3 linked regions of the Homo sapiens genome follow. Each later gene encodes a partner of the first gene's protein in a complex. Each region holds a gene or a part of one and is shown on either strand. Other genes may lie near its edges.

The links.
Region 2: ODAD3 (region 1) and ODAD4 share a complex: the UniProt entries of both Homo sapiens proteins name them as parts of the outer dynein arm-docking complex.
Region 3: ODAD3 (region 1) and CLXN share a complex: the UniProt entries of both Homo sapiens proteins name them as parts of the outer dynein arm-docking complex.

Annotation. Positions count from the first base shown.
Region 1 is NC_000019.10:11,431,739-11,438,935, forward strand, and holds the start of ODAD3 (outer dynein arm-docking complex subunit 3), read right to left. Parts: upstream 3,384-7,197; 5' UTR 3,279-3,383; coding exon 3,035-3,278; intron 1-3,034. Other genes in the region: PRKCSH (glucosidase 2 subunit beta isoform 3 precursor), read left to right, coding at 4,380-4,458, 4,651-4,767, 6,138-6,233, 6,329-6,386. UniProt on the Homo sapiens protein: Component of the outer dynein arm-docking complex (ODA-DC) that mediates outer dynein arms (ODA) binding onto the doublet microtubule. Involved in mediating assembly of both ODAs and their axonemal docking complex onto ciliary microtubules.
Region 2 is NC_000017.11:41,926,101-41,933,902, forward strand, and holds the start of ODAD4 (outer dynein arm-docking complex subunit 4), read left to right. Parts: upstream 1-4,516; 5' UTR 4,517-4,623; coding exon 4,624-4,737; intron 4,738-7,802. UniProt on the Homo sapiens protein: Component of the outer dynein arm-docking complex (ODA-DC) that mediates outer dynein arms (ODA) binding onto the doublet microtubule. Plays an essential role for the assembly of ODA-DC and for the docking of ODA in ciliary axoneme.
Region 3 is NC_000008.11:48,731,983-48,739,413, forward strand, and holds the start of CLXN (calaxin), read right to left. Parts: upstream 3,287-7,431; 5' UTR 3,170-3,286; coding exon 3,112-3,169; intron 2,703-3,111; exon of another isoform or gene 2,553-2,702; intron 1,278-2,552; exon of another isoform or gene 1,155-1,277; intron 1-1,154. UniProt on the Homo sapiens protein: Component of the outer dynein arm-docking complex (ODA-DC) that mediates outer dynein arms (ODA) binding onto the doublet microtubule. Seems to regulate the assembly of both ODAs and their axonemal docking complex onto ciliary microtubules.

The sequences.
Region 1 (7,197 bases):
CCTGGCTAACATAGTGAAATCCCGCCTCTACTAAAAATACAAAAAAAAAAAAAAATTAGCCGTGCATGGTGGCAGGCACCTGTAGTCCCAGCTACTCAGGGGACTGAGGCAGGAGAATGGTGTGAACCTGGGAGGCAGAGCTTGCAGTGAGCCGAGATCGCACCACTGCACTCCAGCCTGGGTGACAGAGCGAGACTCTGCCTCAAAAAAAAAAAAAAAAAAAAATTAGCCGGGCATGATGGTGGGTGCCTGTAATCCCAGCTACAGGAGGCTGAGGCACAATAATTACTTGACCTCTGGAGGTGGAGGTTGCATTGAGCTGAGATCCTGCCACTGCACTCCAGCCTGGGCAACAGAGCAAGACTCTGTCTCAAAAAACAAAACAAAACAAAACAAAAAACCCCAAAATCCTTCCATACTCAAGTCCCACAGTCAGCCCTGTGGAACCTGCAGATACAAACAGTTGTCCCTCTGTATACTCAGGTTTTGCATTCCAGGACTGTTGTATTTTCTTTTCTTTTCTTTTTTGGGACTGGGTCTTGCTCTGTCACCCAGAATGAAGTGCAGTGGTGCTATCACTGCTCACTGAAGCCTCAACCTCCTGAGCTCAAGCAGTCCTCCTGCCTCAGCCTCCCAAGTAGCTAGGACTAGAGGCATGTGCCACCACATCTGGCTACTTTATTTTTTGTAGAGTCAAGGATCTCACTATGTTGCCCAGGCTGGTCTCGAACTCCTGGCCTCTAGCAATCCTCCTGCCTCAGCCTCCCAAAGTGCTGGGATTACAGGTATGAACCACTGTGCCCGGCCTGCCCATCTCAATTTTTTTTAACTTGAAAGGATGAATGATATATGTGAACACATGGTGTTCAACGGTCAACTGTACTTCACTGTGAGCATTTATTATGTGTTGGATGCTGGACTAAGAGGTTTCCGAATGCCATATATCACGTGCCAATAGGTATCCATGGCATACGCATATCATACCCCTTGCACAGATGACAAGACAGAGGCTTGGGCTGATTAAACTGCTTAAGGTCACAAGCAACCATGCAAGATTACCCTTTTTTTTTTTTAAGACGGAATCTCACTCTGTCACCCAGGCTGGAGTGCAGTGGCGCAATCCTGGCTCACCGCAACCTCCACCTCCTGGGTTCAAGCCCCTCTCCTGCCTCAGCCTTCCAAGTAGCTGGGATTACAGGCGTGCGCCACCATGCCCGGCTAATTTTTGTACTTTTAGTAGAGATGGGGTTTCACTATGTTGGCCAGGCTGGTCTCAAACTCCTGACCTCAAATGATCCGCCCACCTCAGCCTCCCAAAGTGCTGGGATTACAGGTGTGAGCCACCTCGCCCAGCCATGATTACCTCTTAATAATATCAACAAAAGCAATAATAATAGCTTACACACAAGGATTCTGCAACCTCAGGATGACCAACAACTGGGCCGAATAATTATTTGCCGTGGGGTGCTCTCCTGTGTTTTGCAGAATGTTGGGCAGCATCTTCAACTCTGCCCACTAGATGCCAGTGGCAGACACACACCCACAACAGACATCCATGCCACCATGCCCGGCTAATTTTTTGTATTTTTAGTAGAGACAGCGTTTCACCGTGTTGGCCATGCTGGTCTCAATGTCTTAGGACATTGCCAAATGGCCCCTGTGGGGCAAACCAACCCTTTTCCAACAAGAACCACTGGTTTACACCTTATGGTACTTTGCTATGTGCCAGGCACTGTTCTAAGCACTTTACACATTTCAGGTACCTATGTTGTACTGTTACTATCCCCATTTCACACATCGAGAAACTGAGAACAATTAGGTTACTCTTAGTCCCCCAAGGTTGGACAACTATTATGCAGAGCCAGGATTCCAACCCAGAAAATCTGGCTCTAAAAATCTATGCTCAGGCCAGGTGCAGCGGCCCATGCCTGTAACCCCAGCACTTTGGGAGGCTGAGGAGGAAGGATTGCTTGAGCCCAGGAGTTTGAGACCAGCCTGGGCAGCATAGTGAGACCCCATCTCTACAAAAAGTAAGAAAATTAGCCAAGCACAGTGGTGTATGCCTGTAGTCCCAGCTACTCAGGAGGCTGAGGTGGAAGGATCGCTTGAGCCTAGGAGGTCAAGTCTGCAGTGAACTGTTATCCAACCACTACACTCCAGCCTCAACAGCAGAGCAAGACCCTGTCAGAAAGAAAGAAGGCTGGGCGCGGTGGCTCACACATGTAATCCCAGCACTTTGGGAGCCAAGGCCGTGGATCACTTGAGATCAGGAGTTCGAGACCAGCCTGGCCAACATGGTGAAACCCAGTCTCTACTAAAAATATAAAAATTAGGTGTGGTGGCACGCACCTATAGTCCCAGCTAGTCAGGAGGCTGAGGCTCGAGAATCGCTTGAACCTTGGAGGCAGAGGTTGCAGTGAGCCGAGATCATGCCACTGCTCTCCAGCCTAGGCGACAGAGCAAGACCCTGTCTCAAAAAACAAAAAACAAAACAAAAAAAAACGCGGGTGCAGTGGCTCACGCCTGTAATCCCAGCAGTTTGGGAGGCCGAGGCGGGCTCACGCCTGTAATCCCAGCAGTTTGGGAGGTCAAGAGATTGAGACCACCCTGGCCAATATGGTGAAATCCCTCTGTACTAAAAATACAAAAATTAGTTAGGCGTGGTGGCGTGTGCCTGTAGTCCCAGCTACTCAAGAGGCTGAGGCAGGAGAATCGCTTGAACCCGGGAGGCGGAGGTTGCAGTGAGCCGAAATCGTTCCACTGCACTCCCACCTGGCAACAGAGTGAGATTCTGCCAAAAAAAAAAAAAAAAATAGAGAAAATAAATTACAAGAAAGTATGAAGTACAGTTCAGTCGGTTCTGAACCCATGAGAAGTTTTAAGAGACAGAGAAGGAAAAACATGAACTAAGTATGAGTTTTTGCCCAGAAACGGTTTACCTAGACTCATGCTGGAGAAATACCTTTGTCACACCATGAAGATTGGATGGGCACTGTTGACCCCTGACCCTCTGTACCCTCTGGAGCCATCTTACCTAACAGTTGTATCTTTTTATGTAACTCAGCCACCTGAGAGTGCACAGAGGGCTTCCCTGCACCTCTGTGGAAGGATCCTCCCTTGGAACGGCCTGGGGTCCACGCCTGGGCTGTGCCCTTGCCTCGGAGGTGGCTGGGTTTGCCCGAAGCCTCCCTGCCCTTGACCCTGGAAGAGGGCGTCGAAGCCTGGTCCTGAGGAGGCAGGGCGTTGGCGGAGGCCGCCCTGCACAGAGGAGATGTCATGATGGGGTTGGGGCTGAAGGCCCCTAGGGGTTAGGGGGATAACTAGGAGTCAGTCGCCCCTGTCAGGGATCCGTCAGCTCGGATTCCTAGGGCTCTGAAAAATGCACTTTCCGACCGCTAGGTGGTTGCGCTCCGCATCTCTCGGTTGCCAGGTAACCGCCTCCCCGTCTCTCTCCACTGTTTCCATGGAGATCACCCGCGTTCCGTGGCTGACACTGCGTTCTCATTGGCTGAGGCTGCATAGAGGGGCGGTCCCAACAGTGGGCGGGGTAGAGCCGCGCCGCAGGACGGAGGGTCTGGACACTTTGGGGTCACGTGCTCATTCCGTTTCCCTACCTCCCCCAACCTTATCCCGCCCCTGGGGGTTCGCGGGCATTTTTCAGGAACTTTCTTTCCGGCTTGAGAAGCCGCCACTCCCAAGATGGAGGTACGCTGCGCCGCCATTAAGAGCTAGCCCTCAGAACTATCCTCTCTAAGGTTTCACAGTCCTGCCCAAGATGGCCGTCTCGGCTCTGGCACCGCCCCCACTCCTGCCTCTCCCAACATGGCGACCCTGAGTCTCCGTTCCCGGTGCGGAACGTACGACCGGAAGTGACGGGGTCCAGAAATTTCCGCTTTCTTTCTGCAGCAGGAACCGCGGCTGCTGGACAAGAGGGGTGCGGTGGATACTGACCTTTGCTCCGGCCTCGTGTAGGTGTGAACGAGCGGGTGGGAGGGCACCTCAGTTTCTTACAGGGGGCAACCGGAGGGTGCATGTGTGGGTGTGGACGGCGGAGGCTGTTAATCCCTTTGGTCTGTTGGCGGGAATTGGGTCACAATTGGGCACAGGGAGCGGAGGTTTTGAGATCTTGAGATCCTCGCCATTGATTTGAGCAAAGTGAGACTGGCCAGGATTGGGGAGATCGCTGCCCCTCGCCCCCATATCGGAAACAAAGTGAGGCCTCATTGCCTGGAAGCGATGGAGGAATCCAATTGGCTGGAAGTAGCCCTCTCCCACTGACCGGGATCCGCTTTCTTCCTGCAGCGTGAAGACACAGCGCATCTCCCCGCTGTAGGCTTCCTCCCACAGAACCCGTTTCGGGCCTCAGAGCGTCTGGTGAGATGCTGTTGCCGCTGCTGCTGCTGCTACCCATGTGCTGGGCCGTGGAGGTCAAGAGGCCCCGGGGCGTCTCCCTCACCAGTGAGTCCTCCTGTTCACCCTCCCGCCAGGCTGGAGGTGGGAGGGGCCAACATTGGGCCTTAGGGATAGGCATTTACAGCCTTTTGACTCAGTTTCCCGGTAGTGCTCCGCTGGTGGGGATGGGAGGACAGAGGTGGTATTTGGTGGAGAAGGCGCTTACCTGCCCTGGGCTGAGCTTCCTGTACCCCGCAGATCATCACTTCTACGATGAGTCCAAGCCTTTCACCTGCCTGGACGGTTCGGCCACCATCCCATTTGATCAGGTCAACGATGACTATTGCGACTGCAAAGATGGCTCTGACGAGCCAGGTGAGCCTTTTCTCTGTTCATCCATCAGATGTTTATTGAACACTGCTCAGTGCCAGGCCCTGTCTGTGTGACCAAGATACTACCTCTGCTGGCTCCCCTTTGAGTGGGCAGAAACAAGCTCAGAAGTCAGTGGTCAGTGTTATGGCCCCGGGCAGCTGGAGGAGCCCAGAGTCGTCCTCCTCCCAAGCCTCGGGGTCAGAGAAGGCTCCTCCAAGGAGGTGAGGTTTCAGTTGAATCCCGAAGGTGCTGCAGATGGAGGGGTCAACACGGGCAAACCCCTAGAAGTGGGAGACAGGGTGGGGCCAAGAGCAATCCAGCAGGAGACAGAGGTGAAGGGAGACCCTGGCTTTTTGTTTTTGTGTGTTTTGAAGAGACAGGGTCTTGCTTTGTTGCTGAGGCTGGAGTACAGTGGCATGATCGTAGCTCACTGCAGCCTGGAACTCTTGGGCTCAAGTCATCCTCCTGCCTTGGCCTCCCAAAGTGCTGGGGTTACAGGTGTGAGCCACCGTGCCTGGATGAGACCGTGTCTTTGGTTTTGTTTTTGTTTTGAGACGGAGTCTTGCTCTGTTTCCCAGGCTGGAGTGCAGTGGCGCCATCTCGGCTCACTGCAAGCTCCGCCTCCCGGGTTCACACCGTTCTCCTGCCTCAGCCTCCTGAGTAGCTGGGACTACAGGCACCCACCACCACGCCCAGCTAGTTTTTTTTTGTATTTTTAGTAGATACAGGGTTTCACTGTGTTAGCCAGGATGGTCTCGATCTCGTCACCTTGTGATCCACCCGCCTCGGCCTCCCAAAGTGTTGGGATTACAGGCGTGAGCCACCGTACCTGGCCTTGTTTTGTTTTGTTTTTAATTTTTTTTTTTGAGATGGAGTTTCACTCTTATCGCCCAGGCTGGAGTGCAGTGGCATGATCTTGGCTCACTGCAGTCTCCACCTCCCGGGTTCAAGCGATTCTCCTGCCTCAGCCTCCTGAGTAGCTGGGATTACAGGCACATGCCACCACATCCGGCTAATTTTTCGTATTTTTAGTAGAGATGGAGTTTCATCGTGTTGGCCAGGCTGGTCTCAAACTCATCACCTCAGGTGACCCACCCGCCTCGGCCTCCCAAAGTGCTGGGATTACAGGTGTGAGCCCCCGTGCCAGGTGGAGACCCTGTTTTGAAGGGCCTCAGTGAGAAGAGGCAGGAGGCGGCACTGGAGAGCTTTATTTCGAGCCCTGGCTGTGCAGTGTACAACTCTTTCCTTCCTTTGGTTTCCTTTCCTTTCTTGTGCTGTGTGCAGTGTGGGTCAGGGGCTCTTATCTGTGGATGGATGGGACATGTCTGTCCCTGAGCTGACTCCGAAAACCTTCCCTCCCTTCTTCCTCACAGGCACGGCTGCCTGTCCTAATGGCAGCTTCCACTGCACCAACACTGGCTATAAGCCCCTGTATATCCCCTCCAACCGGGTCAACGATGGTGTTTGTGGTAAGTGAAGATGCACCAGGATTCTGGAAAGGTGGTAGAGGGAGGGAGGGAGGAGGCACTGCCAGGTCTGATCTTGGCTTCTGCCTCTGCCACAGACTGCTGCGATGGAACAGACGAGTACAACAGCGGCGTCATCTGTGAGAACACCTGCAAGTACGTGGGTGACAGTACCCCTCCCATCACCCCACCCCAAGACTTTGCCTGGCTCCACCCAGTGAATCGGGCCCACTCTCTCTTCTGCTTTTCTGTATCGGGTTCTCTGTCTGTGCCAGGTGCCTTGTGAATCCTAATCCCCACCTTTCCCTCTAGTCTGGAAGCAGGTAGGATTGTTTCCCGATTCAACAGATGGGGGAACTCAAGTTTAGAAAGGGAAATGACTTCCCCAGGGTCACATAGGAGATAGCAGAGCCGGCACTTGGACTCTAAACTTTCCATTGTCACGCTCTGCAGCAGGTCCTGAAAACCGAAACACCCACAGGCAGGTAAAGTATACAACGGAAGGAGGCCAGGCGCGGTGGCTCACACCTGTAATCCCAGCACTTTGGGAGGCTGAGGCAGGCGGATCACGAGGTCAGGAGATCGAGACCATCCTGGCTGACATGGTGAAACTCCGTCTCACTAAAAATACAAAAAATTAGCTGGGTGTGGTGGCGGGCGCCTGTAGTCCCAGCTACTCGGTGGGCTGAGGCAGGTGAGTGGCGTGAACACGGGAGGCAGAGGTTGCAGTGAGCCGAGATCGCACCACTGCAATCCAGCCTGGGCAACAGAGTGAGACTCCGTCTCAAAAAAAAAGCAAAAAAAAAAAAAGCATACAACAGAAGGAGGCCAAGTATGAGGCAATACGGAGGGGTGGGGATTGTGGCATCTAGGGGAACAGCTGTTCTCAATTCCTGCCAGCTGATCCTTTTGTAGTTCATAGGCATGATGATTTATTTTTATTTATTTATATTTTTTGAGACAGGGT
Region 2 (7,802 bases), on another chromosome or scaffold:
TCCGAAAGTGCTGGGATTACAGGAGTGAGCCACCACGCCCGGCCAGACATGTATGTTTATTTACTTATGTTCTATTTCACAATAAAAGAAGAAATAAAGCAATAACATGAGGAACATAGCTATAAATGGCTGGGACACACTGGAATCCAATTCTAGCACTCTTTATCCTGCTAATCGAACCCAAGGAATAGGCCCCAACCCAGCTCACTTATATCCTTGTGCTGTAGCCTGGAGCAAACCTTGTCATTTCTCTCAGCCTCAGAGTTTCTCATCTGTGAAACCAGGAAACCACTGACTGGCTCTTTACTTCACTAGGGTGTTGTCAAGCTCACAGTGCTTTATAAATTGCCAGAAAGCACACATTATGATTGGTATTTTATGGTTTTTGTTTTGTTTTGTTTTTTTGAGATGAAATCTCATTCTTGTTCCCCAGGCTGAAGTGCAATGGCACGATCTTGGCTCACTGCAACCTCCACCTCCCAGGTTCAAGCGATTCTCGTGCCTCAGCCTCCCGAGTAGCTGGGATTACAGGTGCCTGCCACCATGTCCGGCTAATTTTTGTATTTTTAGTAGAGACAGGGTTTCACCATGTTGGCCAGGCTGATCTTGAACTCCTGACCTCAGGTGATCCGCCCGCCTCGGCCTCCCAAAGTGCTGGGATTATAGGCATAAGCCACCACGCCAGGCCTTATTGTGTTTTTAAAACAGCTTTCTTAATATATAATTAATGTACAATAAACTGCACATAAAGTGTACAATTTGATGAGGTTTTTGGTCTTTTTTTTGAGATGGAGTTTCACTGTTGTTGCCCAGGCTGGAGTGCAATGGCACGATCTTGGCTCATCACAACCTCCGCCTCCCAGGTTCACGTGATTCTCCTGCCTCAGCCTCCCGAGTAACTGGGATTCCAGGCATGTGCCATCACGCCCAGCTAATTTTGTATTTTTAGTAGAGACAGGGTTTCTCCATGTTGGTCAGGCTGGTCTTGAACTCCCGAACTCAGGTGATCCACCCACCTCAGCCTCCCAAAGTACTAGGATTACAGGCTTGAGCCACCATGTCTGGCCAATTTGATGAGTTTTAATACATGTATATACCTGTGAAACAATTACCACAATCAAGATAATGAACATATTCCTCACCTCCATGAGTTTCCCTGTACTCCTTTGTAATCTACCCCTCACTTCCCTACTGCCATGTTCCCAGGCAGTTAGTCTGCATTTTCTAGAATTGTATTTTATTTGAGATGTGATGTCACTATGTTGCTCAGGCTGGAGTGCAGTGGCCTGATCATAGCTCAACCGTGTTAGCCAGGATGGTCTTGATCTGCCCGCCTGGGCCTCCCAAAGTGCTGGGATTACAGGTGTGAGCTACCACACCCGGCCACATTTAAATATTTCTAGTTAATTTTTGTATATGGTATGAGGTAAGGATCAAGGTTTAGACTAGGCGCAGTGGCTCATGCCTGTAATCACAGCACTTTGGGAGGCTAAGGTGGGTGGATTACCTGAGGTCAGAAGTTCGAGATTAGCCTGGCTAACACAGTGAAACCCTGTCTCTACCAAAAATATGAAAATTAGCCGGGCATGGTGGTGCACACCTGTAGTCCCTGCTACTTGGGAGGCGGAGGCAGAAGAATCACTTGAACCTGGGAGGCAGAGGTGGCAGTGAGCTGAGATCACGCCACTGCACTCCAGCCTGGGTGACAGAGTGAGACTCCATCTCAAAAAAAAAAAAACTCAATATTTATATTTAGACAGGCATGGTGGCTCACATCTGTAAGCCTGGCACTTTGAGAGGCCGCGGTGGGAGGATTGCTTGAGTTCAGGAGTTCAAAACCAGCCTGGGCAACATGGCAAAACCCTGTCTCTACCAAAACAACACAAAAATCAGCTGGGTGTGGTGGTGCGTGTCTGTAGTCCCAGCTACTCAGGAGGCTGAGGTGGGAGGGTGGCCTGAGCCCAGAAAGCAGAGGTTGCAGTGAGTCAAGATCTCACTACTGCACTCCAGCCTGGTGGACAAGGCCAACTCTCTCTCAAAAAATAAAAATAAAAATTAATTAAATACATATTTACATTAAAATATTTCCAGTTGATTTTTGTATATAGTGTGAGGTAAGGATCAAGGTTTTTTATTTTGGATTTTGTCTTTCCATATGGCTATCCAATTGCTTCAGCACACATTTGTGGAAAAGAGTATCCTTTCTCCATTGAATCTCTTTGGCAACTTCATTGAACATCAATTGATCATATATGTGTGGATCTATTTCTGTTCCATTAATCCATATATATTTACATATTTATGCTAATACCATTACCGTAGCTTTAAAATAAGTCTTGAAATCACAGAATTTAAGTTCTCTTTTGTTCTTCTTTTTCAAAATGGTTTTGGCTATTTTAGGTCTTTTGCATTTCCACATAAATCTTAAAATCAGCTTGTTAATTACTGAAAAAAAAAAAAGGCTGCTGGGGCCAGGCACAGTGGCTCATGCCTGTAATCCCAGCACTTTGAGAGGCTGAGGCGGGCAGATCACCTGAGGTCAGGAGTTCAAGACCAGCCTGGCCAACATGGTGAAACCTCATCTCTACTAAAAATACAAAAAATTAGCTGGGCATGGTGGTGTGCACCTGTAATCCCAGCTACTCAGGAGGCTAAGGCAGGAGACTAGCTTGAAACCGGGAGGCGGAGATTGCAGTGAGCCGAGATCACATCACTGCACTCCAGCCTGAGTGACAGAGTGAGACTCCACCATAAAAAAAAAAAAAAAAAAGCTGCTGGAGTTCTGATTGGAACTGCACTGAATCTGTAGATCTCTTCCTTGCAGGAGGTTTTTTTCTGATTAATCCTGGTTGCTCCAGCAACAGTCCTCAACTCATCAATGAGCCCACCTTAACTTAGAACAGGACCAGTTTCACTGCAGGTCCTTAAACCTGTTGCTGCTCCTTAAACACCCTGTGAATGTACACACCTCCAGCCTTTGCACATGTTATTTCCTTTTTTTTTTTTTTTTTTGAGACAGGGTCTTGCTTTGTTACACAGGCTACAATGCAGTGGCCCAAACATGGCTCACTGCAGCCTCGACCTCCCACGCTCAAGTGATCCTCCTGCCTCAGCTTCCTGAGTAGCTGGGACTACAGGCACACGCCACCACACCCAGCTCACTTTTGTATTTGTGGTAGAGACAGGGCTTCGCCATGTTGCCCAGACTGGTCTCGAACTCCTGAGCTCAAGCGATCCTCCCACCTCAGTCTCCAAAGTACTGGGATTACAGGCATGAGCCACCACACCTAGCTCTCATTCTCTACTTACGTCTACTGGGCTCCACCATACTCACCCTCAGCTCAAATATTACCCCTCTATGAACATGTCTCTAACCCATCCCAGACCCTGGCTGAATCATTCATTTGCCTGGGTTTCACACCACTTTGTCCTCATCTCCCTCACAGGCACACAGAACTTTTAATTACTAGTTAATATCACTTAAGTGGCCGTTACTTGTTTATACATCTTTCTCCCCTATTAGATAAAACTCCTTCAAGCAGGGACCATATTATTTCTTATATTTTGAATTAAACCTTTTGAGATAATCATAGATTCATATGCAGTTCATAAGAAATAAATACAAAAGAGATCCCATGTACCCTTTTCCCAGTTTCTCCCAATGGTAACATCCTTAAAAACTTTAGTACAATAACACAACCAGAAAATTGACACTGATACAATCCACTGATCTTACTCAAATATCCCCAGTTTTACATGTATGCCGTGTGTGTGTGTGTGTGTGTGCATTTGTAGTTAAAGACATCTTTTTACTATTTAAACTTTAACAATGACATTAGGACGTTTTGGAAGTAACGTAGTAAAGGCAGTTAAGCAAGCTACTTAGGGTATCGTTGGAGCCCAGAAGAAGCACCTAGTCCACTTTTGGAGGAGTGGTGATGGTGAGGGAATGGGGAAGGACGTCAGAATATGCCTTGGTCAAGGCCCGCTACTAGTAGCTGCTCAAATAACTGCGTTAAATTATGTTGAACCCAACGTTATTTTCCATGTTTTCTTATGCAAATCCTCGCATCCCTGAGTGTTCCATTATTTTCATATTTATTTGGCAGGTGGAACATTCGAGGCTGGGAGCCCTTACATGCCCCGCGAGAGGTCACGCAGTTAGGAAGTGACAGGAGCGAAGTCAGCCCAAGTCTGCTGACTCCAAGCCCAGTGCTCTCTCCCCCTAATGGCGGTACGCCGTGCACATATCCTTACCACGTATGCCTCATCCCTATTCGGAACTTTGCCTCCAACCCTCTTCCTGTTTTCTTGGCTGTCTTACAAGGGAGCCTTTTCAGGCAGCAACTCCAGAGAGAACCGCCAGAGCGTGCAACAGCAAACACTAACCAGCCCAGCCGTCAGCCACGCAATCATCACTCCCTGGCCCAGTGCGCGGCAGAACTGGCGCAAGCGCACGCCGGCAGGTTGTACCCAGAATCCGGGCCCTTGCCAGACGGGGGCGGAACCGGAAGTCGCTGTACATCTCATGGTTGCTAAGAAACGGAGCTTCCACAAACCAGATAGAGGTTCTCCAGCTTTTCTTTGATTGTCTCTGCTTTAGCGTCTCTAAATCCGGTCACCATGTCGGACCCCGAAGGCGAGACCTTGCGAAGCACCTTTCCCTCTTATATGGCCGAAGGCGAGCGGCTCTACCTGTGCGGGGAATTTTCTAAAGCCGCGCAGAGCTTCAGCAACGTGAGTCGAGCTCTCAACCTATCCATCACCCCATCACCCGTCACTTTTTTTTTTTTTTTTTTTTTTTTTTTTTGTGACGGAGTTTCGCTCTTGTTGCCTAGGCTGGAGTGCAATGGCACGATCTCGGCTCGCCGCAACCTCCGCCTCCCGGGTTCAAGTGATTCTCCTGCCTCCACCTCCCAAGTAGCTGGGACTACAGGCGCGTGCCACCATGCCCGGCTAATTATTTTGTCTTTTTAGTAGAGATGGGGGTTTCACTGTGTTGGCCAGGCTGGTCTCGAACTCCTGACCTCGTGATCCACCCGCTTCGGCCTCCCAAAGTGCTGGGATTACAGGCGTGAGCCACTGCGCCTGCCCCCTGCCCTCACCTTTTGATTGCAGATAACACTGAGGTCTTGATGATGCCTGGAGGACCCTGTTGTTTCTATTATTCACTGATTTTTGATGGACACACTGCTGTCACAGATAAGCCCTGTGGTTGGCCATTTTCTACCAGTTCCCACTTGCAATCTCCATTCTCTGCGTTAACAGTGACCTTTTCCTCCACTTTTACTTAAATGTTTCATGATTAACCGGCCTCCTTCCACAGAGCAGCCTTACCTTCCCATCATTTGCTGGCAGATTGGATGGGAGGTTGCATGCAGAAGCCTCAATGTCCCCAGCACACCGTTGCTTATAAAAGGTGGCCAGTAAGCAACATATGATTATTATTATCAATTTTGAGACAAAGTTTTGCTATGTTGCCCAGGCTGGAGTGCAGTGGCAAGATCTCAGCTCACTGCAACTTCCGCCTCCCCAGGTTCAAGCGATTTTCCTGCCTCAGCCTAGGGAGTAGTTGGGATTACAGGCATGTCCCACCACGCCTGGCTAATTTTTGTATTCTTAGTAGAGACAGGGTTTCACCATGTTGGCCAGGCTGGTGTCGAACTCCTGACCTCAAGTGATACACCTGCCTCGGCCCCCCAAAGTGCTGGGATTACTGAGGTGAGCTGCTGCACCAACCAGCAACATTATTATAGTAACCCTAGTATAAATTGCATCATCCCACCCTAAGGGGATTGGGTGATGGTTTTTGTTGTTGTTGTTGTTGTTGTTGTTGTTGTTTTGGAGACGTAGTCTTGCTCTGTCTCCAGGCTGGAGTGCAATGGTGCGATCTTGGCTCACTGCAACCTCCACCTCCTGGATTCAAGTGATTCTCCTGCCTCAGCCTCAGGCACACTGCTAAGCAGACTGGATTTTTGTTGTTGTTAAGATGGAGTTTTGCTCTTCTTGCCCAGGCTGGAGTGCAGTGGCGCAATCTCGGCTCACCCCAACCTCCACCTCCCAGGTTCAAGCGATTCTCCTGCCTCAGCCTCCCGAGTAGCTGGGATCCCAGGCATGCACCACCATGCTCGGCTAATTTTGTATTTTTAGTAGAGACGGGGTTTCTCCATGTTGGTCAGGTTGATCTCGAACTCCCCACCTCAGGTGATCCCCCCCCACCTCAGCCTCCCAAAGTGCTGGGATTACAGGCGTGAACCACCCCACCCAGTGCATACTCAATTTTATAGATTAGGAAATATACAGAAGTTGAGCAACATGCCCAAGGTCGCTAAACTAGCAAGTGGCAGAGGAAGGATTCAAAGCCGGGCTCAGACTCCAATGCTGAGGTGCTAACCACAAAACTACACATCTGACATCTGCATAAGGAAACTGTTGTTTTTTTTTTGTTTGTTTGTTTTTTCAGAGACAGGATCTCGTTCTGTCTCCCAAGCTGGAATGTGGTGGCACAATCACAGCTCAATACAGCTTCAAACTCCTGAGCTCAAGTGATCCTCCCACCTTAGTGTTCCAAGTAGCTGGAGCTACAGGCTTATGCCACCACGCCTGGCTAATTTTTTCTTTTCTTCTTTTTTTTTTTTTTTTTTGTAGAGATAGGTGTTTTGCTATGTTGCCCTGGCTGGTATTGAACACTTGAGCTCAAGTAATACTCCCGCTTTGGCCTCACAAAGTGCTAGGATTACAGGTATGAGATACAGTGCCCTAAAAACATGTTTTTATGACCATTTCTTTTGCTCCAAATTGCCCACTTCTTCTGCTCCAAATTGCCCACTTCTTCTTCTAGATGGAGTGATAGGATAACCCTGTAGTTTTGAGACTTCCTGTAAGATCAAGCTTCTCAACAGCTCCCCAGAGTCGTTTGTCCCTTTCAGTCACCAACCACACCCTAAAACCAGAAATGATGACCAGATAAGTGAACAATTGAGTTCGGTAGCCCTGTCCCCACTTATTCTCCTCCTGCTGGATCATGTCCCATCCTGAAGTACCCACCAGCAGAGAAAAAAGAACACCCTGAGGGAAGGGTAGCCTTGGATGAGAAGCAGTCACTTTCCAGAAAGACAGTAGCTACTTCCTCTTCTTAGAAAAGTAGGAAGGTCTTAGAAAGGGGTGGGTACCAGGAGACAGAGGGTTGCAGTGAGCCAAGATCATGCCATTGCACTCTAGCCTGGGCAACAAGAGTGAAACTCTGTCTCAAAAAAAAAAAAAAAAAAGACCAGGTCAGGTGGCTCATGCCTGTAATCCCAGCACTTTGGGAGGCCAAGGCAGGTGGATCACCTGAGGTCAGGTGTTTGAGACCAGCCTGGCTAACATGGTGAAACCCTGTTTCTACTAAAAATACAAAAAATCAACCGGACGTGGTGGCGAGTGCCTGTAATCCCAGCTACTCCGGAGGCTGAGGCAGGAGAATTGCTTGAACCCGGGAGGCGGAGGTTGCAGTGAGCCGAGATCGTGCCATTGCACTCCAGCTTTGGCAACAAGAGCAAAACGCCATCTCAAAAAAAAAAAATTAGCCAGGTGTGGTGGCGGGCACCCGTAGTCCCAGGTACTCGGGAGGCTGAAGCAGGAGAATTGCTTCAACCCGGGACTCGGAGATTGCAGTGAGCAGAGATCGTGCCACTGCACTCCAGCCTGGGTGACAGTGTGAGACTCTGTCTCAAAAAAGAAAAAGGGGGGTGGGTACAGTTAGATGCCTCAGGAAGGACAGTACACCACAGACTATGGTAATCATCTCACACAGAAAAGAG
Region 3 (7,431 bases), on another chromosome or scaffold:
GTCACCAGTTTTCCAATAAAAAAGCTTTAAAGCATATTTTAGCACCCAATATGGCTCTTCTTGAGGATTACGTAAAAATTAACATGCAACTATTCAGTAATAGTTTGGAGGAAGGAAATTTTTATTTAAAGGATATACACACAAACAGATACTTGCTCATACACATTATTGTATAAAGGACCATGGTTATAAATACCGAGTTAATTATTTGTGTTCCAATCCCCATTTGAGAATGTAGGTGGAAGGGTTATTGCCTGGTCTTGATAATATAAAAGCTCAAATACCAAGTATGGGCGGAAGTTGGGGAAAATTTATTTTGAAACCAGTCAAAACTGTGATTGAGCATTTTAACAAACAAGGACAAAACCTGTGTGTGTATAACAGAAGACAGCATCTAGGAATGGAAAAATCACACCTCATCCTAGAGGTCAGTACAGGCATTTGTGGGATTTCTGGTTTGGAAAACCACATTTAAAGAGAAACACTAAAAAGTCTGGGAAAAAAGATTCAGCAAATAAATAGTAGGAAACAATATAATGGTTATGATTTCAAAAACAGCTGTTAGTCACTGTGGAAAACAGTATGATAGCTCCTCATAAAAATTAAACACAATTATTGCGTGATCCAGGAATTCTACTTCTATTTACATACTCAGAAGAACTGAAAGCAGGAACCTGTACAACAATGTTCATAGTGTCATCATTCACAACAGTCAAAAGACAGATGCAAGAGTCCATCAATGGAGGAATGGATAGACAAAATGTGGTGTATTCATACAATGAAATATCATTCAGCCTTAAAAAGGAAGAAAATTCTGACACATAGATGAACATTTATGGATATTGCACTTAGTCAAATAAGCCAGACACAAAAGGACACATATTGTATGATTCCTCTTATATAAGGTACTTAGTCAGATTTATAGAGACAAAGTAGAATGATAGTTGCCAGGGACTAGGATGAGGAGGGAATGGTGAGTTAACATTTAATGGGTAGAGTTTCCACTGGGAACAATGAACAAGTTACGGAGGTGGATGGTGGTGTTGCAAGCAGAACAGTGTGAATGTACTTAATGCCATGAAATTAAGCACTTAAAATGGTTAAAATAGTAAATTTCATGTTATATGTAACCACATACACACACACACACAAACCTCCTAAAAAGCAAGAGCTGTTAGTTGTTGCGGAAGAAAAGCCTGCATGAAGAATGATGTACTCTGTTCATGTACATAAAATGGTAGCAGAGGGGATGTTGGTTAGCCATTTTTCCATCTCAGCTGAAATAAAAATTTTTAAAAACTAGTTTAATTTATTACCCAAAGGATCAAAGGTTAGCCATAAGAAAACTTTTATTGCTAAACATTTCTTAAATTCTAGAATACAATACTAAATGAAACAAGAAAATTCAAGAATAGGTTTTCATCTTCTTGGAATGCTGTGAATGTGTCCTGCAGAACATATCTGTAGAACAGTGCATGAACTAGATGTTCTCTTAAGATCTTTCACTCTTCTTTGATTCTACAAAATTTATCCATTGAATCTTGATAGCTTTATTGTCTTGCAACTAAAACAAAATTTAACTTTAGGGGAAAGTTCTTCCGTTAAAGAAAATTTAAAATTATTATAATGTCCATGACGTATAACTATTTCTATAGACTTTAACTAATAATCATCTAAGTTTGTAAGACTCATTGAAAATTTTTTAGTAAACAAAAAAATCAAGAGCAGACTTTTTCCTGCCATATTTTTACTTACCTTTAAAAATATACACTCACCTTTTGATTGTTCACAGAATGATTGTCTGCAATGCATTCAAACTTACCGAACAGAGACTAAATCAAATTCAAACTTACGGAAAGGGACAAAATCAGTATTGTGTATAGCAGCTATTGCATTGTTTTTGAATATTTATCAAAAATGTTTACTAGATGTTTACTAGAAGAATACCTATTCTCCCAGAAATGAAAGTGTTTTAAGAAAAACAATAACAGAACAAAACCCTCATCAGAGTATAGTAGTCATAATAATATCTTAAATTACAGGATTTTTTTCCTAAACATTTTAAGATGCGTACACACACCATAATATTCATTTATATCACCATCCACTAAGAGAGCATTTCTTACCAGGTATTAAATCAGATACTAATGATAATTAGAATGCACTAGATCTTACAATCTCTAAAACTACATCAACATGTTTATTCCTTCTTTTTTGAGCGACTCGGTTATTTGGGGGATTGTTGCTTCTGTTTCTTCAAGTGGCCAGTAGTTTTGCAATTAGCACACACAACTTCTAAGTTTGCTCGACAGGAAATTATCTTCCTCATCTAAACCATACCCACGGCTTCCTTGCTAAAGTGCAATTATGTTTTTCAGTCTGAATATAAACTCAAAGTTTCCTATGAAATTCTAGGACCACCCTTTCAAATGCGAGATTAGAGCAGGTGCCTTCAAATAGGGCTCATCTTGTCACCTGCAAAGTCTCCTTTATCTTTCAACACCAGGGGCCACTGGAAAGTGGGAGTCTAAAGTTGGGAACCCATTCTTTACCACGTGTTTAGTTGTGCTGAACTCTGGTTTCCAAACAAATATTGTTCTGAGGCACAGATGAGATGACACAACTCATCTCTCCGAAAGATGTTGAGAAGTTGAGCACCGTTTTCTCCTATGGGTCTCTTGGTAAGCTTCCAGAACTTGGACCTGCGGGTGTATGTGCGAGCTATAAAGCAGGGTGAGTGCACGGTCTACCTTGGTGGTGCTACTTTTCTTGAGACCAGTTGGTTTTAGCATTTATTTTACACCTCATTGAGGCTAACATCACATGTTTCTATCAGGTAAAAGAAGAGGGTTGGAGAAGCAAGTAAATGCATGTGTGGGAGTGTAGGTAGCACCAGAGGCGGAGGCCTGGGTTCCTAAGATCAAACGCAAGGAGCTGGCACCCCGGGATTCCCTCTCTGACTTCTGCTTAAGGGGCCGGGGTGGAGGGGCGGTAGGTAGCCCACAGAGTCCCAGCAGGCGGGAAGCAGGCACAACAGCGGACCTTAGCACGGGGTGGGACCCAGGCTCGGTCCAGGAGCCTCGGCCTGTCCAGCACTACATTCTTACTTACAATGCTTGCAATTTTTGGTTAAGGTGTCCGTCAGCTTCTGCAGTTTCTTGCGGTTCATGTCTGGCGCTCAGAGAATCGGGCCGCGGCGGGGGTCTCTGGGCGCGCGGCTACCGAGACCCTCGCGGGACCCCCGCGAGCCCTGGTGCTGGGTCAACGCGGTGAGGTCTCAGTTACTGATCTCGTGCGCGGCCCTAACAGACGGTGTAGCCAAGGCAACGGCTCAGCCCGCCGCGGATTGGCTCCCAGGCTGCCCGCGACGTAGCCAAAGCTACAGCTGGGCCCCGCCCATCGGCTCAGCGACTGCTCGCGCTGGGTTCTCGGTGCGCGGTGCCGCCGGCAGGGTCCCAGCTGGCCGCCTTGAGGGCTGTATTCTGACTGTTGACGTTGGAGTTTAAATGTTCAGTTGTTGCTGGCTTTTGAGTTCGCAGCCTCTTTGCTTGATTGCAGTGTAAATCATTAAAATCTGAAATGTGGTGTGCACGCTGTATGAGAGGTGTTTCGGGTCGTGAGCGTCACGCCTCAAGGGAAGGCCCAAGATCTTGGACATCTTGGGGGCTGGAGCAGCGTCACAAAATAGCAAGGTGCTGTCCAGAGGACGATCTTGCCGGGCCTCCCGTCAGAGGGCTAGAAGCTTGCTCTTTGGGCGGAGCCACTGCTTAGGTTTTCAGTCTTGGTGAGGTAACAGGAGGCAGTCTGTCACCTGAGGTCTTCGAGCTTTTAGTTGTGTTTCTGAGAGCAAGGGGAAATTGGAATACAGCCACGGGTTGCCTAAGGAGCGGGACGCGTTCCGAGGTCACTAGGAGATTTCATCACTGTGTGCACATCACGGTGCACCGACACAAACCTAGATGGCCTTGCCTACTGCACGCCAGGCTGTATGGTACAACCCATTGCTTCTGGGCTGCACCCCTGCACAGCAGGTCACAGCGCGGAATGCTGCAGGCAGCTAAAACAGAGTGCTAAGCACTCTGGGGAAGGTGCAGTGTTCCAGTACAGTGTTACATCTTATGGGACCACTGTCCTAATGTTGTCTGATGTTGACTTAAATGGCGCTATGTGGCTTGTGACTGTAGTTTTTTTCTTTTCCCACTGCCCTCATCTCACTTCCAAAAGATGGAGGTTGTCTGTGGAATCTGAGGAAAGCCACGAGGAATTTTTATACTGCTTAAATAGGCATTCCCCCCAATGAAAACGGGCTGACAACACCACTTGGGTGTGGGGTACAGCCCAATCTTGCTTTTCCGGAAAATATCTCAGCAACCTTGGTCCTTTACTTATTTGAAAGACAAGTTCTGTGCCGGCAGACAAAGGATATTCCTTACATCTTCAGGGTGGGAGGACTTTCTGCTTTTCCTGATCACAGAGGGGATATCCTCTTTCAGCTAAGGCAGCAATAAAAAGGGGTGGCTCAGCCAGGATCACCAAATCTACAGTATTCTCCAGAGTGCCTGCTCGTTTAACTTCAGAGGGGAAAATGACAAACTATGTTATTGTACACATACTGGCATTTTTAGACTGAAGGCAGAAAAATTCTACTAACCATGAGTAATAATCCCAAATGAAATAATTCCAATGTCGAGGCCTCTGGTTTTTCTTTACTGTTTCATTTGTTTGTGGAATGAAGGATTGGGATGCTGTTTGAAACTAGAGCAAAGGGTGCTTGGTAAAGGCATGGACTGTGTTATCCTAAAGCAAATGTCCTAACAACAGTTACCCGATATGAATTGATGGTGATTATGAGTTTGTAACAGTAGTATTTTTAAATAGTGTTTCTACATATCCCCTTGTCTAGAAGAGTGAAATTCCTGAGACCATAGAGAACAAAAGGGAAAGACTGGACATATTTGAATTATACTTACCTGTGACACCTTATTGATTTCTGTTGGATCACAGAGCTGTAGCAAATACTTAATTCCTAGAGATTGCTGCACTGCTCACTTCAAGAGACAAGGAACCGAAAGAGTGGTTGTCAGTAATTACTAAGAGACGCTGTGGGCTCCCCACCTGATGTACTAGGCCTGTGTTGGGGAGCAGGCCTGCGCTGTTGGTGAGCACATTGGTGGTTATTTCTGGTGGCCTGGGGAGATCGCATACACCGGGTGCTTGCTATAGGTAAGCTAATTAGTTATTCCTTCACGAGTTTAAGGCCTAGAGCCCATCAGCCATGTTCCCTTAAAGTTAAAAAAATAATAAAAAGATGTAGGGGCAATATCACAGATTGTTGAAATTAAAATATGCCGGGCCAAAACTCCTTAACCTGTTGAGCAAACTTTGTAAGTCACCTCCTCCTCTTCCACTTCTTTTATCCTCCAGTTCTTTCTTCCATGCAGTTCTTTTAGCCAAAAAAATCAACCAATCTATCTATCTATCTATCTATCTATCTATCTATCTATCTATCATCTATCTATCTATCTTTCTATCTATCTATGCAAATGCATTGTTTTGTGAATCTCACTTATCTAAGAGAGTGATTTGCAGAGTTGACCTTACAATAAGGTCTTATCATCTTTTTCAGGGAAAGCACAATGTTTATTTGGAGTATGTTTTGTCAACATACGGGTAAACTTCAGAGCTTTCATTACATTCTTGTGAAGTTTTGGAACTTAATATTTTTAGACTTTAGAAACAAGTTGCAGGCCTGATTGAGTCAGTGAATAACATTTCAAAGCAAGTTGAAGTTTCTATTTGTAGTTTTAGTTGCTTATGCTGAGTAGACACAGGACTGCTTTCCCCCAAGAGCTTTCTCAGAGTAAGGCAATTAAGCCTAAGAGGCTACTTCATATTAAATCAATCAATAATGGAATAATAAAGGATTGTGTTTAATTCGTATTGGACATAAATTTTACTGTGCATGAAATGATCATAGAACTTTCCAAAAATCCAAGCAACCTCAAGATGAATAACTTTGTAAACACAGAAGTACATTAAAGTGACTATTAATGCTATGTTTCCTTTAGTTTTGTGTGCAAAACAATCTTCCCTTTGACTCAGCATTCACTGGATTGTTGCCATGATAAACAGCTTGGACCTTGACTTGATGAAATTGTTTTCCTTAATGTGGACCTTTTATGATGAAGGCCTTTGGAAACTGTTGAGGAAATGACATCATAGAATTGATCTCCAAGTATATCACAAATCTATTATAAAATTGCTTGAATAAAAGGGAAATAGGTTAGTTACCTGCATAATAGAAATTCAACTTTACTAATTTTATTTTGTGGAGACAGCGATAACAAAAATAAGAGTTATATGTGTGACCAGTTGTTTGGGTGGTCGAATCTCCAAATCTCTACCACTTGTCACTCTCCCCTTTGCTGTAGGGTTGTGGTGACAAGCTAGAGTCTCAGTATTCAGACCCACAGAACACTGTCTTATGCACAACTTCTGCATATTTTTCACCCCAACCACTCCCAGTGGCAACTCTTCAAAGAGCTCTTTCTGACACCCTACGTGAAGTGAAGTGAACCCTTCTCCACCCAGCCATTCTCTTCCTTGATACTATTTTTTTAGCACTTGCTACTGTGTGAAACAATTGTTTTTTTCTAACCTCTCCTTCCCACCAGACTAAATCACATGATCTCTCTCTCTCTCTCCATATATTTAAGTCTATTTCACTCGCTGTATCTCTGCATTTGTTTGTTTATCATCTGTCTGTACCTCTGAAATTTGACCACATGGTCCATGTTGTGTGGTCTGTATTGATGGAAAGTGGTAGGAGAACCACTCCAGCAGGAATGAACCCCAGGTTTCCCTGCAGCACCCTGGGGCTGAGTCCCTGGTACAGTAACCACAATGGAGCCTTTAAAGGGAGCTGGGCAATATAGAAGAGCTTTCATTTAAACTGACCTTTCTCCAAAATTCACACTTGATATTCACTGGTGTTGACGTATTTCTAGACTTTTTTTTTTTTTTTTTTTTTTACTGTAATCAAGTGACCAGCCAGTAAGACAAATGCCTAAGGTTTACTAAGGATAGGATTCTTGTATCTCAACATGTAATTTATAAAGTTGTAAATTAAGATGTGGCCTGTGACAGTTAATTATTATGATAGCCATAATGTCAGCAGGTCTGAAGTTTTCGGTAAAGAATCTGGCTCTTTGAGACCTGGCAGAGCTGACCAAGAAATCCTGCTGAATGTGCTGGGCTTGATCCCCTCAGCACTGGGTCATGCGCCACTGTAGCCAGAGTCATGGCAACTGTACTACCTGCAAAGCTGCCTCAGAGACAGAAGATACCCACACCTTTTTCTTACCAAGCCCAGGGCATCTTGCAACATTTGAGCCCTAACCAGGGAATTCATGAGCATCACTAAGCACAGAA